Regions from separate parts of the Homo sapiens genome. Here region 1 is linked to region 2. Evidence: fine-mapped expression QTL. A gene starts in region 2. The other region holds a variant in brackets. All regions are shown on one strand. Distances are from middle to middle.

Evidence for each region.
Region 1: its variant is fine-mapped to the expression of CDCA3 in gastroesophageal junction (GTEx, PIP above 0.99).

Annotation. Positions count from the first base shown.
Region 1 is chr12:7,086,544-7,094,543 of GRCh38, forward strand. C1R (complement C1r) reads right to left here and starts at 5,902. Exons shown (of 11, transcript NM_001733.7): 1 at 5,844-5,902; 2 at 4,909-5,137; 3 at 3,513-3,705; 4 at 3,044-3,190; 5 at 2,750-2,946; 6 at 2,296-2,443; 7 at 2,067-2,188. The coding sequence starts at 5,845. RefSeq lists an enhancer at 5,950-6,244. The variant A/G (reference allele first, on the strand shown) is at 3,814.
Region 2 is chr12:6,846,477-6,854,988 of GRCh38, forward strand. It overlaps CDCA3 (cell division cycle associated 3), which reads right to left and starts at 4,810. Exons shown (of 6, transcript NM_031299.7): 1 at 4,746-4,810; 2 at 4,357-4,533; 3 at 3,991-4,120; 4 at 3,089-3,382; 5 at 2,847-2,953; 6 at 2,352-2,722. The coding sequence starts at 4,476. The coding sequence ends at 2,567. GNB3 (G protein subunit beta 3) reads left to right here. Exons shown (of 10, transcript NM_002075.4): 10 at 316-917. The coding sequence ends at 422. It overlaps USP5 (ubiquitin specific peptidase 5), which reads left to right and starts at 5,674. Exons shown (of 20, transcript NM_001098536.2): 1 at 5,674-5,814. The coding sequence starts at 5,704. RefSeq lists silencers at 4,816-4,865, 5,536-5,645, 6,616-6,665 and enhancers at 5,026-5,305, 5,312-6,272, 5,376-5,425, 5,696-6,335.

The sequences.
Region 1 (8,000 bases), 240 kb after region 2:
ATACCAAGACATCTCTTGGCTCCCCCATGGATGTGGCTCCCCCATGGATGTGGCTCCCCCATGGATGTGGCTCCTTCTTCCTTCTCCCCAGCCCATTACAGACAGGAGCATTGAGCCACACCACAGCAAGTCAGAGCAGAGCTAACTGATAGACCTGATCATCCTCTCTCTAGACTGTGGCCTGTTCCTACTGAGGTCCAGTTGAATCCCACAATTTGTAATTTGAAAAAATCACAAGCCACGTTTGAGTGTTTTCTGTATCAAAACAAAAGCCTGTGCTCCAGGGCAGAACTGTGTTTCTCTTGCTGGTGTCCCCTGCCTCCAGGCGTGCATCACTTTATCTCTCCTGGGTTGCAGTTTTCCTAAGGACAGAGGCCTTCCCTAAAATACTAGAGCCACCTCGCAGCTTTGAAAGGTGCTGGAGACGTTGATGTATGTGAAGTGCTGTTGCTATTGAGCAGGGACAAGACTAGGAAATGGCAGTCTTTGAAATGAAAAGTTACTGGACAAATGAATAAGTTTTACTAAGACCAAAATTCGGCCAGGTGCAGTGGCTCACGCCGGTAACCCCAGCACTTTGGGGGGCTGAGGTGGGCGGATCACTTGAGGCCAGGAGTTCGAGACCAGCCTGGGCAACATGGAGAAACCCTGTCTCTACTAAAAATACAAAAATTAGCTGGGCATGGTGGCGCACGCCTGTAATTCCAGCAACTCGGGTGGCTGAGGCACTTGAATAGCTTGAATCCAGGAGAAACACTTGAACTTGGGAGGCGGAGTTTACAGTGAGCTGAGACCATGCCACTGCCTGGGTGACAGAGCAAGACTCTCTCTCAAAAACAAAACAAGACAAAACAAAAAGACCAAAAATCATTCCATGGAGTTAGCCCTGGAAAAGGTTGTAAGAGAATGTGTATGAGAACTAGAACGTCTGAGTAAAATGTAGGTAATGTGAGAAACCGTGTGACTTGCTTTAAATTCTATGATGTGAATAACAAATGCAAAAGTAAGGGCAGTGGGTGGTGCAGGCAAGGGAGGGTTGTAATAGGAGCAAAGAGGTTGGTAGTCTCCATTCTTCTGGACCCAGGACACCCACCCAATCCTCCTGATGGAGCTGGAAGCACCTTGGAGTAAAGAACAATGCATCAGGTGAACTCGACTTGATGCAACATTCAAATGTGAGCTCCACAAAGGCTGTGTGACTATGTGGGTTTCTTTTTACTGAACCTCCCACATCTAGGACAGTGCCTGACAGTAGACACTTAAAGTGTGCATTAAATGAATTAACTGTGACTTAAGGACATATCCTAGGTCTCTTCTTTGATTCTGATTAAGTGTTCCATGTGGACCTGTTGAACAACGATGGGATGTCCAGTCTTGGGTCTCTGTCCAGAGACAGAGATTTTTAGTTTACCAGCTTTTGTGAGATTGATCAATGGATAAAACCATATTCCCTCCTGAATCTGCAGAGCCGAGGACAGGACGGTGGGCGCAGGGGGAGACCACCAACATGTGTAAAAGAGCCCCGGAGCAGGAGGCAGGAGATTGGCGTCCTAGTCCCTGCCGTACACAATCGCTACGTGATGTTGACGAGTCACTACATCTCCACCCTGCCTTTTCAGTTCCTTCAGCTCTCTTGAGTTATTGGACTAGGGCAATAGTTCTTAAACTTGGCTGTGCATTAGAATCACCTGGGTAGCTTTAAATAGTCTTGATGTTCAGGCTCTACTCTAGATCAATGGAATCAGAGTCTCTGTTGGGGGCCCTCATCTTCAGTATTTATTTGCTTATTTTTATTTTTCAGAGACAGAGTCTTGCTATATTGCTCAGGCTGGAGTGCAGTGGCTATTCACAGGGGCCTTGAATGAATGGGCTCAAGCAATCTTCCAGGATTTTAAACTCTCTGTTTTAAGTGTGCAGCAAGTTTGAGAGCTGGTGGACCAGGAGACTCTTCCAGCTGAAACGTCTACGACTCCAGCTGGGGTGAGACTAAATCCTCTGTGAACCCACCACCTGAATTCCTCCTGGGGTGCTGGGCCGGCTCTCTCCCCTCAGCCCTGGGCTCTTACCTCTATGAGCTGGTAGCCTTGCTTGCAGGTAGCAATGAAGTAGTCACGGAACTGGTACTGAGGCTGCAGGTTCTGGATGATGGTGAACTCGTCTAGGGTCTTGGGCTGGGGGCACTTGATGACTGTTGGGGAGACCAGGGGGCATATTTATTTCAGAGCCACTTGTCCTTCCTTCTTCCCCCCTTTTCCCCATTGCTGGCCATCGAGGGAGGCCTGCAGGGAGCCTTACTCTCGGTGGTGTAGCGCAGCTTCCAGCCCCGGCTGTCCCCCGACTCATCTGTGAAGAACAGCAGATCCACAGCATTGCTGCTGGTGTCGAGGTCGGGGGGCCTTTGCTTCCCACAGAACTCGCCAATGTTCTTCCCGTTGGCATAGATCTAGTAGGGGAGGAGGGTTTTTTTTTTTCAGCTTGGACGTTTTTACACAGGGCCAACTGGGTAGTAGCCTGGTGGCCAGGGTGGTGGTGGTGGTGATGAAATCCTGCCTTATGTGTGTTTTCAGGGGAAGGTGAAAAGGGATCCCCATGACCCAATTCTAGTTGTGTGGGAACTTACCCAGCCCATGGGTGATGTTGGCCGTTCCTGCCCCAGCTGGCCAGGGGATCCAGGAGGAAGTTGGGACAAGAGGAGCCAAGTGCAGACAGAAGGGGAGGAAGGGGTCTTTCAGGGGTAGGACGGCTGTACCTGTAGCTGGTCATAGGGGCAGTGTACTTGCTGGTGGTCATCAATATCAAAAGGCTCCAGGAACTTGAGGTGCAGGGTGAGGCCCCGCTCCACCCGGATGCTGTAGTTGCAGCGCAGGTCAGGGGGGTAGGACCGAGGGTACTCCAGGCTGGAGATGTAGCCTGATGCCTCCGTGTACAGCTCGCTGCTGCACTCAGCTGTGAGAGCAGAGCCACAGGGCATTACGGGGGACTCCAGCTGGCCCAGCAAGCCCTGGCTCAACCCCTTCCCCTCTGCTACACCACTCTGGCTCACCCTGGCAGGAATGCCTGTCTTCCTGAAGCTCATAGCCTGGACGGCAGGAACAGAAGTAGCCTCCAACGTAGTTGTGACACAGGTGCTGGCACTGGGGCTGGGGATCCTCCTCCCCTGATTTGCTCCGGGAAGCACATTCATCAAGGTCTGGAAGGCATTCAGGAAGGAGGGTTAAGCTTCTGCTGGGAGACCTGAGTAGTGGCTCTGATCTTAGGGAGGTCACTCACCAGAGACCTAAAGACAAAGGCATCTTTAGGCCACCTGGACCTCCAGGCCTCTCCAATGCTCTCTGGGGACTGCTCCATGGGGACAGAGCCCAGGTTGACAGGCCTCGTTAGGAAAAGCTCTCTCGAGGGGAGGAACAAGGAAAGCCAGGCTTTCGGCTTCTTTGCATTCAAGATTCCCTTTCTTGGCCCCCCATTCAATATGGCTGAGGTCAGAGAAAAGGGATCCCTGGGGGGCTACTCACCCACAGCTTGGTAGTAGGCCAGGAAGCCCTTGTAGAACATGATGGTCCCATTCTCCTCGTTGGAGAAGTCTGTGTGGAAGGTCAGCAGCATCTTGTTCCCTTGGGACATAAATTCCTTCTTTCCCGGGGGGTTGCCCAGTGGAGAACCCAGTTGCCCACAGAACCTCCCCAGGCTTTTCTTATCAGCAGAGATCTGGTGGAAGAAGGACAGGGGGTAGGAAGAAGATCTGTTGCGGAGTGGCGCACGTGGTGGCTCAGTGATGGTCCTCCTTGTCTCGCCCAGAGTGCATCATGCACCACA[A/G]TGGCTCTGGCTGGTCACTACCTGCTGGGCTCAGCTGCTGCAAACTTCCCCATGTGACTTTCAGCTGTTCCCTGAGTCTCCCACTGACTCACTCTTTGCGTGTTGTCCTGGACTGGGTACCTCACCCTTTCCCTGTTTTCTGCTCCTCTGGCAGGTTTCAGGTCCTTCTCCATCCCCACCACCTCCTATGGCCTGTTCCCCTGGGGTCCTGGTTGTCTGTACCCAGCCTTTACCTGCCCCTCATTCCCAGAGCTCAGACAGCTCCGCTTTATTTTCTGTCTTCAGATTCCACCTCAGCCTAATCAAACCATTCACACCTCGAGTGCCTCCTGATGCCCTCGGCGGAACATGAGCCCTGAAGCCCACCCATCTCAGTGTCAGCAGGCACTGCCTCGTCCCTCTTCCTTCCTCCTCACAGCCTCCTCAACCTCTCCTTGACTCTGCCAGCAAACGCCCTCCCCCAACACTGCACACTCGCCAAGTCTTCTGAGCCGGTAAGACGTGCCATTGTCATGTAATTCACGCATAATCTCCAGGGGTCTCCTGGGAATGGTAGTTGTTGGACCTTCGCAGGCTCTGCTTGAGCCCTGAATCTCATTTTTACTGGATAGAGAAAGACAGGCCTGGGAAGGTACCCTTGGTTGCCACAGAGGTGAGGGTTCTGAGCACACTGTCCTTGCTGAAGGCTATTCCTGTGCTGCCAGAGCCCACATTTCTCCTCCTCATGTCCCTGTGTTCCTGTTGAAGCAGGCAGCCATGTCAATCATTTCCTTGGAGACAGGGAAGCTGAGGCACAGTGGTTTCCCAAAGACTCTCAGCTAGACAGCAGATGGGGAAGGTTTTCCTGACTCAGTGGATGTTGAATTTCCTGAGTGGGTCCTGTCCCCTTCCTTCTCTGTGCTTCTCCCCTCAGTGCTCACCGAGGGCCTCTACACCAGTGAGCGCCCATCCAGGGCATCCCCGGGCTCTCAGAGAGGCCGTTGGCCATCAGCTCTTGTGGGGCTGGGCTGTGTCTGGGGGTGTGCATGCCATACAGATCCCAGATCCCAGAGGGCCCAGTTTTGTCTCCCCTCTGCCCGCCCATCCTGCCCCTACCTTGACATAATCATAGAAGCAGCCTTCAGAAGGCTCCAGGTCAAACTGCTGGAAGACGAGCTTCACCCTGTATCCCGTGGGGACTGTGATCACAGTGGTTGTTTCAAAGTTGTTGGGGTAAGGCTTGGGGAACAGAGGGGAAGTCACCTCCCCAAATAACTTCTGAGGGATGGGAATGGAGCCTCCTGCCCTGCAGAACAGGGCCGGCACCAGGAGGTACAAGAGCCACCTGCCAAAACAAAAGAGAGTATCTGGAGCTGGAGGGGTTCAGCACTCTTGCCATGTGGGCAGTGGCTGTGGCAGGGGATGAGACGGCCATACCACTGGGCATTCTCCTCTCTGCCCACCCTGAACCTCACAGACATGTTCTCAGCAGGGGTGCGTGGGTGGGGAGGATGGCCTGTGCAGCTGCTGCATCGGGTCACTCTCCAGGGCAGTGTCCAGTCCAGAGGCCACCACACTCCCCTCACACTCCCTTTCCAGCCTCCTCCCCTGCCCGGACGCGTCCCTCCCCTCCCCTTCCAGGAATAGGACTGGCTTGGGACCAGTTAATGGAGGGTGAGGGTTTCCACCCGTGGGTCTCTGAAAGGGCTCCCACAGGTTCAGCAAGAGCGTCTGGGAGAAACCATCTGTGGAGTGGGGGACACAGGCACAGAGTGTCCCGTCCTGGGCAAGGGGTCCCCTCCTCTCGCTGCTCCCTGCCAAGAGCCCAGAGGGAAGAAAGGACCATGGCATGAGCATCTATGTATGAAGTCTCCTCTGATCCCTAGGAGGAGGGATGGGGCGTGTGTTGTGTGTGTCCACGCGTGTGCACAGTGGAACTGATGAGGTGTGTGAAGAGAGAAGGGTGTTCCTGTCTCCCTGAATTGCCTCCCATGCCCTGGCTTCTCCCCTGGCTTCTCCCTCCCACCTGGTTGCCCATCACCCTTACTCACATTTCTCAAGGCCCGTGTTGAATCCTGGGCTCTCCCGACAGCGTCTTCGTGCACTGTGTGCAGAGGGAGCCCGCGTCATGCACAGCAGGGAGGGGAGGGTTTTCTGTGGAGTGGAGGGGGGACCATTCCCGGAGGAATGTTGGAGGGAATGAACTATTTGCATAAACAAAAGATCTGAGTTTCCACTTTAATTTAGTTTTGGTTTTGAAATCCCTGTTTGTGGTGCCACCTGCTGGTCGGTGAGGGAAAGGGCTAAGGAGACGGGAGTCTGGCTTTTTAGGGCCCGGGGAGCCTTGGGTTGGAGGCCCAGATGTCTCAGTCTCTAAATCTGATCAGCTTCTCCCTTCTTCCAAGACTTTCCTGGGGGCTGCTGCTGTGTTTACAAGGTTCCTACCAAAGCAGTGGGAGACCACAGGTGGTGGTGAATTCTCTTTTCTGGGCTGTCCTTTCCCATTGACCCTGTTCTTCCTGCCCTCATTCAGCCCACAGCCCTGGTCCAAGAATGGCCCGGGTTTCAATGCCCAGGACGTAATGATAGGAACACTGGGGCAGAGGAGGGTGTGTGGGAGCGGGCAGAGGAGAGAGGAGCTTGGTTGCCTTGGGGCCCTGGCCTGCTTTAGCCATGAATGACACTTGGACATAGAATAGGGTTGGCCATGTCAGGGCAACCCTAAATCAGCCCTGGGTTTGAGACCCTCTGGGGCGGCTGCGGAGGGGGTAAAATGTCCCCATCTCCTTAGCATCTGCTCAACACAACTGCCAGGGCTGAAGCTAAGGATGCGGGTGTGGAGCAAGAGGGACTCGGTTTTTCTGAGATGAAGCCAGGCCCCTGGGAGGGAGGAGGGACCCTAGTCTCTCCTGTCCATCAGGCCATAGTGTCCTGCTTTAAAACTTTTGCTCTTGGCCACGTGTGGTGGCTCATGCCTGTGATGCCAGCACTTTTCGAGGCCAGGGTGGGAAGATCTCTTGAGCCCAGGAGTTCGAAACCAGCCTGGGCAACATAGTGAGATCTCGTCTCTAAAAGTTAAAATAAATTAAAAAACAATTTCATTGTTTTTGGAAGGCTTTCTTCATCAACTCTCCATGGCACCAAATATCTGATGGCACTTCATCCCACGGAGGGGCTTGGGCTGCAGAGCAGGACTCTGCGTTCTTAAGCCTTTGTAGGCTGTTCTGCTTGTTTCCCTTATTAGATGAATCCCTCCAACCTCCACCCTTCTGCCCCCACCCCCGTTCATCCATTTATGGGCTACCTGTTTAATGTGCAAGACACTTTCCCAGGCAATAGATTGCAAGAATTCACAGAGCTGATGCAGTTCCCCATCAGGCAGTGACCACATCATCAGTAGTTAGACAGCAGGCACACAGAAGGTGCAAGATCCACCAACGCTTGGAGGGTTTCTCCAGCAGGCCTGTGTGTCAGAGCTGAGGACTGAACCTAACGGAGGGCTGGTCTGTGATGGGATCAGCATATGATCCACAGCCTTGTTAGATCAGGAAAGACAAAAGATGGGGGAGAAGGAAAAGCACCAGATCAGAGGACGAGAAGGAAGGGGAATCTCGTCTAACAAACTGCACATTAATATCCTAGCAGCAGTTTGTGTGTGTGTGTGTGTGTGCACGCGCGCATGTGCCGTATGTTCATAATGGAGGCAGAGGGAACAGGTAAGGAGGTAAGTCTTAGCTGAAGCTCTTCCGTCCATCCTAGGGATTCTCAGTTCTGCGTTGGCATTGTGCAACACGCTTGGAGAGCGGCAAACCTGGATGTCATTAGCTCAGTCCCAGCCCTGTCTCCACTCTGCCCAACCATTCAAAATAACCTTTACTCACACATTTTTGTTATGTCCTTGACTTTGTTTTGTCCTTGACTCATACCAAGAAGGAAAAAAATGCCATATGAAATGCTGCTGCGTTTGTTTTAAAACAATTATTGAGGATATAGTCGGTTACAGTGTTTGTTCCTTTAAGGATTTGATTCTTGGGAAAAAGATTTCTCTCTTAAAGTAGTGGTAGGTTTTCCTCTGTGGATATGTCTCTATCGCTAGCTCATCTATCTCCATCATCTCTATCTCTTACCTCCCTCTCTCTCTCATTGTCGATATCTCTATCTCTAGACAGAGACAGCGATGGAGATGTAGAGATATAGATCTAGACATA
Region 2 (8,512 bases):
ATCCCAGCCCTCCCCCAACCAAAGCTCTTGACAGAGAACCCCCTGCCCTACAGCTAATCCTCTTTCAGTCTCTTAGCCTTCTTCAGGGGTTGAGCCCAGTCTACCGAGTCTAGGATCCCTGCATGCATGTGCTCAAGCACACATGCACACACACACGTACACACACCCACACATGCATACACATGCACACATATCCCCCCACACACCCACATACACACACACACCCACACACCCACACATACACTTACACGCATGCACACACTGCTTTCCAAATCAGCTTGGAGAGACAGGCTGACTCCTTTCCCTCTTCCTCAGGCATCCTCTCTGGCCACGATAACAGGGTGAGCTGCCTGGGAGTCACAGCTGACGGGATGGCTGTGGCCACAGGTTCCTGGGACAGCTTCCTCAAAATCTGGAACTGAGGAGGCTGGAGAAAGGGAAGTGGAAGGCAGTGAACACACTCAGCAGCCCCCTGCCCGACCCCATCTCATTCAGGTGTTCTCTTCTATATTCCGGGTGCCATTCCCACTAAGCTTTCTCCTTTGAGGGCAGTGGGGAGCATGGGACTGTGCCTTTGGGAGGCAGCATCAGGGACACAGGGGCAAAGAACTGCCCCATCTCCTCCCATGGCCTTCCCTCCCCACAGTCCTCACAGCCTCTCCCTTAATGAGCAAGGACAACCTGCCCCTCCCCAGCCCTTTGCAGGCCCAGCAGACTTGAGTCTGAGGCCCCAGGCCCTAGGATTCCTCCCCCAGAGCCACTACCTTTGTCCAGGCCTGGGTGGTATAGGGCGTTTGGCCCTGTGACTATGGCTCTGGCACCACTAGGGTCCTGGCCCTCTTCTTATTCATGCTTTCTCCTTTTTCTACCTTTTTTTCTCTCCTAAGACACCTGCAATAAAGTGTAGCACCCTGGTACATCTGTGATGTTTGCCTTCTACTCTCTTCTGTTCCAAAAAGACCCAGGTCCCATTTAAGGGCAGTAATGTGTTACAGGTGCTGTGATAAAGGCTGGGTACTGGATAGCTTGTGGGCTTATGGGAGGAGGCCTGAGATGGGTCAGGGGGAGAAGGTATTCAGCAGGTGGCTGGGGGACTGTGTGCAGCAGTTCGCTATGGCCTGCCTGTGGTGCCCATGTGTTTGTACGGGAGGGTTAGCTTGAGAAGGAATCAGATTATAAAAGGTCTTGAATGTCAAGCCAGAGAGTCCAGACTTTTTCCTAAGGGCAATGAGAAGCCATTGAGGAGTTCTGAGCAGAGTAGTAACATGATCAGTTATGCTTCTCAGAAAGATTGCTCCAGATCTTTCAGAAAGAAGCAGTGTAGGTTGATGAAAGGGAGGGACTGGCACTGGGGAAACAAGGTAGGAGGCAGGTGGCAAGAAATGCAAGAGCGACAGGACAGAGGGGTTAGGGAGAGGGATTAGGAAGAGATTAAAGATGTGGAATCAGCTGGAACAGTGGCTCATGCCTGTAATCGCAGAGCCTTGGAAGGCTGAGGCAGAAGGATCTCTTGAGGTCTGGAGTTTGAGACAAGCCTGAGCAACATAGTAAGACCCTGTATCTACAAAAAAAATTAAAAATTACCTGGGCAGGCTGGGCATGGTGGCTCATGCCTGTAATCCCAGCACTTCAGGAGGCTGAGGCAGGCAGATCACTTGAGCCTAGGAGTTTGAAACCAGCCTGGGCAATATGGCAAGACCTCATCTCTATAAAAAAAATACAAAAATTAGCCAGGCGTGGTGGCTCATGCCTATAATCCCAGCTACTGGAGAGGCTGAGACAGGAGAATCGCTTGAGCTCAGGAAGTTGAGGCTGCAGTGAGCTGTGATCGTGCCACTGCACTCCAGCCTGGGTGACAAGAGCAAGACCCTGCCTCTAAAAAACAAGCAAACAAACAAAATGTGGAATCACCAGGATTTAGTGACCAAATGCTAGGATATAGGACATTGGGAGGGAAGGATTCGAGATAATGGCCAAGGTTTGGGTTTGGTGGCTGGGTAGATAATGCTGTCATTCACAAGGATAGGGAAGAGGGAATGAGGAATAGCTTTTGGGGGAAGATCATAAATTCAGTTTTAGACAAACTGACTTTGAAGTACTTATAAAGCAGCTGGATAAAGGTCAGGGTTAGAGAGAGAGACCTGAAAGTTACCAGAATATAGGGAAGTGATAGCTAAAGCCCTAGAAGTAAACACCCAGGGAGAGCAGGGCCAAGGACAGAGCCATAGGGACACCATGGTTAAAGGGAGATGTGCAAAGAAGGCTCAGAGCATCAGTGGGCTCAGGCCAGGGAACGCAAGCTCTCTAGGCCGCCATTCTACACACAGAAAACTCGGTGCAAGGTTTACATATACCTTTTTAAAGTAACATTTAAAATTACTTCCTTTAATATAAAAGAAACACACAAGACACAAAGAAAGCCCAATAAAGCTGTGAGTCCCAGTTTGGTAGCTGAGGAGGAGTCTAAGAAAACAAGCCATTCCTCAGTATCCCTGGGAAAGAAGGGGTGAGAGGACACAGATATCACCAGGCCCTGGGTGACTGCATTGCTGGGGCCATGCAGGGCCTAGCTCTCCACCAAGGGAAAGTGCTGATTTTCCTTGTCATGGTCCTGGCCTTGCTCCCATGCTCGTCCTCCAGTTTTCAGAAGTCGTCCAGTTCCAAGAATGGCTCCTTCCTTTAGTTCACTAACATTTTCACTTAGGGGTGAAGGCCGCTTACCCTGAAAACGGCAGTGTATGAGTTGGGGGGAGTTGCTGTTCAGAAGAGGGAAGATCTGGGTAAAAGGGTCTCCCACCCTCTACGTTGGATATCCTAGTAACAGCTTGCACTTTCTCTTCCTTTACCTGTCGTAGTGTCAGGGTGCCAGGGGAGTTGTCATCCTGCAGGATGGTGAGGGGGGATCTCCCTAGTACCTTGCTGCTGTTTGGTTTCCATCTATTGCGCATAGAACCTGGGGTGGGTAAGGCGTTAAAGCAAGGACCCAAAACTAGGACTTACAGTTTATTCCTCCCACACTCACCCATGGACCTTATCCCAAAACATTATCCTAGTTTATCTTCCCTGCATCTTGCCTTAGATTCTGTACCTGAAGATCTGGGAGTCTCAGGGTCCCTTGAGGGCTTGTCGGAGCTCTGGCTGGCCACAGGGGTTTCTGTGGGCTGTCTTGCTTCCTCCTTGGAAAACACCTGTTTGGAGGGGAACTCAGTCTGGTTCCAAGGTGGCATCTGTTCCTCAACAGATAACTGGGTACCCAGAGGCAAGTCCAATTCAGAAGATAAAGGTGCCTCTGGGGGCAGAACAGGCTCTGGGGGAAGATTTGATTTAGAGTCTTCAGTTTCAAATACTTCACTCAGCTGTTTCACCAGTGGGCTTGGGGGGTCTAGAGGAAGAAAGTGAAGTGAACAGTGACCTTCTGATACACAACATTCAGCAAGGAGCAAAACATACAGAAACCCAGGACTCATGCCCAGGAGGGTGAGCAAGTGGGAAGAGAGAAATCAAGGAAATCAAGGTGAAAGGGAGCAATTTTTTTTTTTTTTGAGATGGGGCTTGCTCTGTCCCCCAGGCTGGAGTGCAGTGGCGTGATCACAGTTCACTGCAGCCTTGACCTTGTGGGCTCAAGCAATCCTCCCACTTCAGCCTCCTGAGTAGCTGGGATCACAGGCCCATGCCACCGTGCTTTTGTGTGTGTGTGTGTGTGTTATGTGTGTGTATTTTTTCTAGAGATGGGGTTTTGCCATGTTGCCTAGGCTGGTCTTGAACTCCTGGGCTCAAGCGATCTGACCACCCCGGCCTTCCAACGTGCTGGGATTACAGGCATGAGCCACCGCACCCAGGCTGGGAACAAAATATTGAGATAAGAGTGAGATGGGTCCGAAGCAGGAGGATAGAGGCCCCTTTAAGGAACCCTGAGAGAATGGCTTCATGGACCCTACCCAAGAATAATAGATGACAGCTTCATCAGCATTCCCTGGGCCCAACGCTTACCTCCACTGCTGGTCTTCATAGGTGTCCGTGCAATACCAAGAGTAGGAGAGCGGGGATCTGAGTCCTGGGCATGTTTAAGACCCTCCAGTTGCTCCCCTGCTGGTAGGCCTGGCTGTGGAGAGCTCTCCACCTGTCAAGACCATAGGCTAGAACAAGTCTGGGCCCTGACTCTTCTCTCCTCTCCTCCCCATATTCCAGGAAGGAATTGCCAAGGCCCTCAGATATCCAGCCTACCCCACACAGATTGAGATTGCAGAAAATAAGGCTAGGATAAGGGTGGGGTCATGACGGCTCTCTCAAAATCAGGTTAGGAAGAGACCCAAGAATTCAGACATTCTCTGCCTTTCCCACGCTGGCCCAGAGTACCTGGATGGGAGTGCGCAGGATGCCAGCACTAGGTGAACGGGGGTCCGCCACTCGAGCCAGATGCTTGTTGTGCGGCGGAGGCCGCGCTGGTGTGACTGGGACGCTCTTGGCTGAGCCCATCTCAACCAGGAGTTGCAGGGTGGGGGCAAGGGCCAGCCCGGGACGAGGAGGGAATGCCTGTGAGAAGTGACTCAGGTCTCAGCCCTTATCTCTTCCACGTCGGACCTTCAACCCTAAACCACCCTGTCTTCCCAGTTTCCAGTGAAGAAACTTCCTGGCGAGGGACCAGAGGCCTCTGCGGAGTTAATGACTGCTGCAGCTGACAAAATGGCTCGTTCTGGGCCTGCTGAGCCCTCTAACTTATTTATTAAATTATTCAAATCACTTACCGGGCCCCAATTCCACCTCTGGATGCACAACAGCTCGTGGCTCAACTCCCGAAGTTACCAGTTTCAAACTTCCCGCCACGCCCCCTGCCCTGACCCTATTGGCTGAGCCGACGTAGTTCCCATAGGCCCTCCACGTAAGACCCGCCTCGAGCCAAAGGAAGCTGTTGGTCTGGGAGAACGTCTATCATGGTGACTGTAGGTGTCAATGGACTGATGCTAGGCTTGCCCAGGGGTGACGCCTCCTTGATAAGGGTACTTCTGTTCAGTATCGGCCTGCGAGCCGTCCGTGGCAGGCTGAGGAGTGCCAGTCTTCGCTTTCGAGACGTCTAGTCTCAAGAACGAATTATTAAACAAAATAGAATCATGAGTGATTACACTATTATGCGCACATCCAGCTGGAGTTGTGATGGTTTTCCTGAGGCGAGCGATAGTAGCTTTATTGGTTGACAGCTGTATCAGTCACTCGACACAACCCCCTCAAGCTCCGCCTCACTGGATACCCCCTTTACAAATACCAAGACAACTGTCCCTCGACTTTCCGACCGGACAGGTCCCCAGGAAACTTTCTGGAATTGAGAGGCCTAAAACAACCGTCAGTTCCTGCTCTTCAATAGAAGGCACGCGAATGGACTCTAAGGGTCCCGGAGCCGGAGCAGCTGCGGAGCCGCAGCAGCTGCAACCCCGAAGCCCACCTAGCTGCTCTACGTGCGCTCCCGCCCTGGAGGAGTGGGATTGGTTCTTTCAACCATCAATTGCCTTAGGAGCGCTTCTCATTGGCGTCAGTCAAGCGCGGGGCAGGGGCGGAGCACCGGCAGGCAGGCTCCGTCCAACTGCCATTCTCGCGCGTCGTCTCCGCGGCGCATGCCCCTAACGAGTGGCGCTCATTGGACGGGAGGGGCAGGGGAGGGGACTGGGAACGGTGGGAGCCGCCGTGTGTGGAGAAGCTGCTGCCGGTGTCATGGCGGAGCTGAGTGAGGAGGCGCTGCTGTCAGTATTACCGACGATCCGGGTCCCTAAGGCTGGAGACCGGGTCCACAAAGACGAGTGCGCCTTCTCCTTCGACACGCCGGTAAGCCCATTCCCCACGCCCGCAACGAGCACGACTTCCTTCCATCGCCCTGGTCATTCCGCTGGGGCCTGCAAGGCTTGGGCTACCGCCTCCCTGCGATGCACCATGGGACTTGTAGTCTCCCACGCTCCACTCTGCCGTTGCCTTTCATTAACTGCGGCTGTCGTGTGACTACCGTCCCCGGAAGCCGCCGCGCTCACCTCTCCGGCTCCCCGCTTCGTGGAGCACTGTGGGCATTGTAGTCACTCACTGCCTTCGTTGCCGTTCTAAGCTAGGGGCGCAGCCCGACCGTCGGACTACATCCCCCAAGTGGACCCTTGAGAAAACCTGGCAGTCGGCCTTGTCTGCCGCGCACGGCTCTCCGGGTTTTGTAGTCTCGTGTAGGAGTGATGGGGACGACTCCCCACTGTTCTCGGCCGGGGTTGGAGTTGGGGGGTGGGGACCGCAGTTCCTAGGCGGTTAATAGTCTGGGAGTGGACTCTCAAGAAGTCCGATTCTGAGAAAGGCAGAGAGCCTCCACCCCGTGGTTAAAACAGACAGGGGGCGGGGAGGGGAGGAAAGAGGAGAGGAAAGCTCTAGTCGTTTCTCCTTTGAAGTGAGCAATGGCCGCAGCCCCCACCCTTCCCCCCGCCCCCCAGCCTATCACAGACAGCTGAGATAACCCCTTTTAAAGTATTCCTAGAGAGGTGGTTTCTTTCTCGGAGGATGCTAAGGCCTCTTTCCCATCCCGCTCCCACTCTTGGCTAGTTACACAAAGCCACCTCCCACACCATGCTTCACGTTTTGCAGGCTCCACCTGGTACCTCCCTTCCTGCAGTTCTGCCTTCCCTATGTCACCCTCAAGCGGAGGCCCTTTGGGGCCTGAACTGAGAAGGCAGCAGCTTGGTTGGGATCCGCCCCCCTCACCACCCCTCCCCTCAAGCTGCTGTGCCCTGCCCAGTGTATTCTGCCAGAACCAGCTCATGGCCTGAAAACTGCAAGTCAGAGTGGAAAGCCTTCATTACTGCATCACCAGTACTGAGTAGAACAGCATGATGTGAGGCCCAGTTCAGGATCATCACTGTGATTTGTGGTTTGCTTGGTTTGCTAGGCTTTGATCTGGGCCTCAGACAATGTGCTGCTTCTCTGAAGTCTGGCTTTGGCAGAGGTAAAAGAGCACTGCGCGGAGCAGAGCTCCGGGGTTCCCAATCCTTGGTGAAATCAGCATCTTTAATTTCCAACAGAGGAGTTTAATCACTTCAGAGCTCCCACATTCTTCCCAGGAGGGAAAGGTTTTTCTTAAATTACCAGCAGGTGGTAGAAGTCAGTGGGTCCCTCTTTACACTTTTATTCACTCCTGTCTCTCTCCTTAGTAACTGCTTTGAATAATCCAAAAAGGGTTTTTGTAATCTTCTGAAACTTTCCCTTTTTCACCCCAAGTCAAGAGATTTTCAGTGTGCCCTAGTTCTTTGCTAACCAACTTCCAGCATATTTGGTTACCTTCAAATTGGGCTCATGGTAGAAAGAGCTTAGTTGACCTCCCCGGTGAGAAATGCTCTATTTGTTCATGAACTTGCAGTACACACTGTTCCTAGGAAGTGGTACAGAGCAATCTATGGGACCAAGAACTACCTTAGACAGTGCACTATTTTTCATATCACAGCAGAGAAATGTTCAAGGCCACTGAGACTTTTATTCCTGGAAGAGGATGTCTGTTGTTGCTCAAAGCCTTGGATCTGAGGGAAGACCCTTATTGTCTCCAATTTCCTCCTCCACCTTCTCCATCACTCTTTACAAAGGCACTGGAAAACTTGGTCAGCTTTGGGGGAAGCCCATCCTCCCTTCTCAGCTGTGTTTCTGGGTGGACACCCGTCTGTCCCTGTTTTCACGGGTTATGTGTGTTCTAGCTATCTCAGCAAGTGTTGCGAGATTGTTGTCAGAACGGGATGGCTTTGAGATTGGTGATTTGTTGGGACTTCAGCAGGGATCTTATTGGTCGGAGGGGAGGCAGAGGAGAGAGGGTGGTGGCTATGGAATGCTGGACTTCATGACCCTGCCAGACTGGGTGCATGTTTAGCTGTGAGTCCCTAACAAGTCATTGTTCCCCTGGAAGCCACACTTCAGCAGGAGAGGAGGGAGAAGACTCACAGTGTGGACCAGGGTTCGACTACCTGGTAGAATGTGGTAAAAGAAAGGTCTTTTTCGCTGGATGTTTAGTCTCACCGCTGTAATCCCAGCACTTTGGGAGGCCAAGGTGGAAGGATTGTTTGAGGCCACACAAGTTAAAGACCAGCCTAAGCAACATAGCGAGACCCCACCTCTAAAAAAAAAAAAAAAAAAAATCTAGGCATGGTGGCATGTGCCTGTAGTCCCAGCTCCTTTGGAGACTGAGGCAGAAGGATCACTTGAGCCGGGGAGGTTGAGGCTGCAGTGAGCTATGATCGTGCCACTGCACTCCAGCCTGGGTGACAGAGTGCAGTGTCTCTAAAATAAAATTTTTTTTTTTTTTAAAGGAAAGGTAATTTTGCTTGCTGGCACACTCGGGTCAGATATACTGTTCAAGTGCTGGAATCTCTGCTCCTCTGGTCTGGAAGGTTTTCTGAATCATGGAGATGAGATAGGGTTTGTCTTAGGTGTCCCCTGGTTTGGGTTCAGTGTCTCACATGAAAGTCTTTCCTCTCCCACGAAGGGACCCTTTTTCCCTTTGAATGTAATCTCC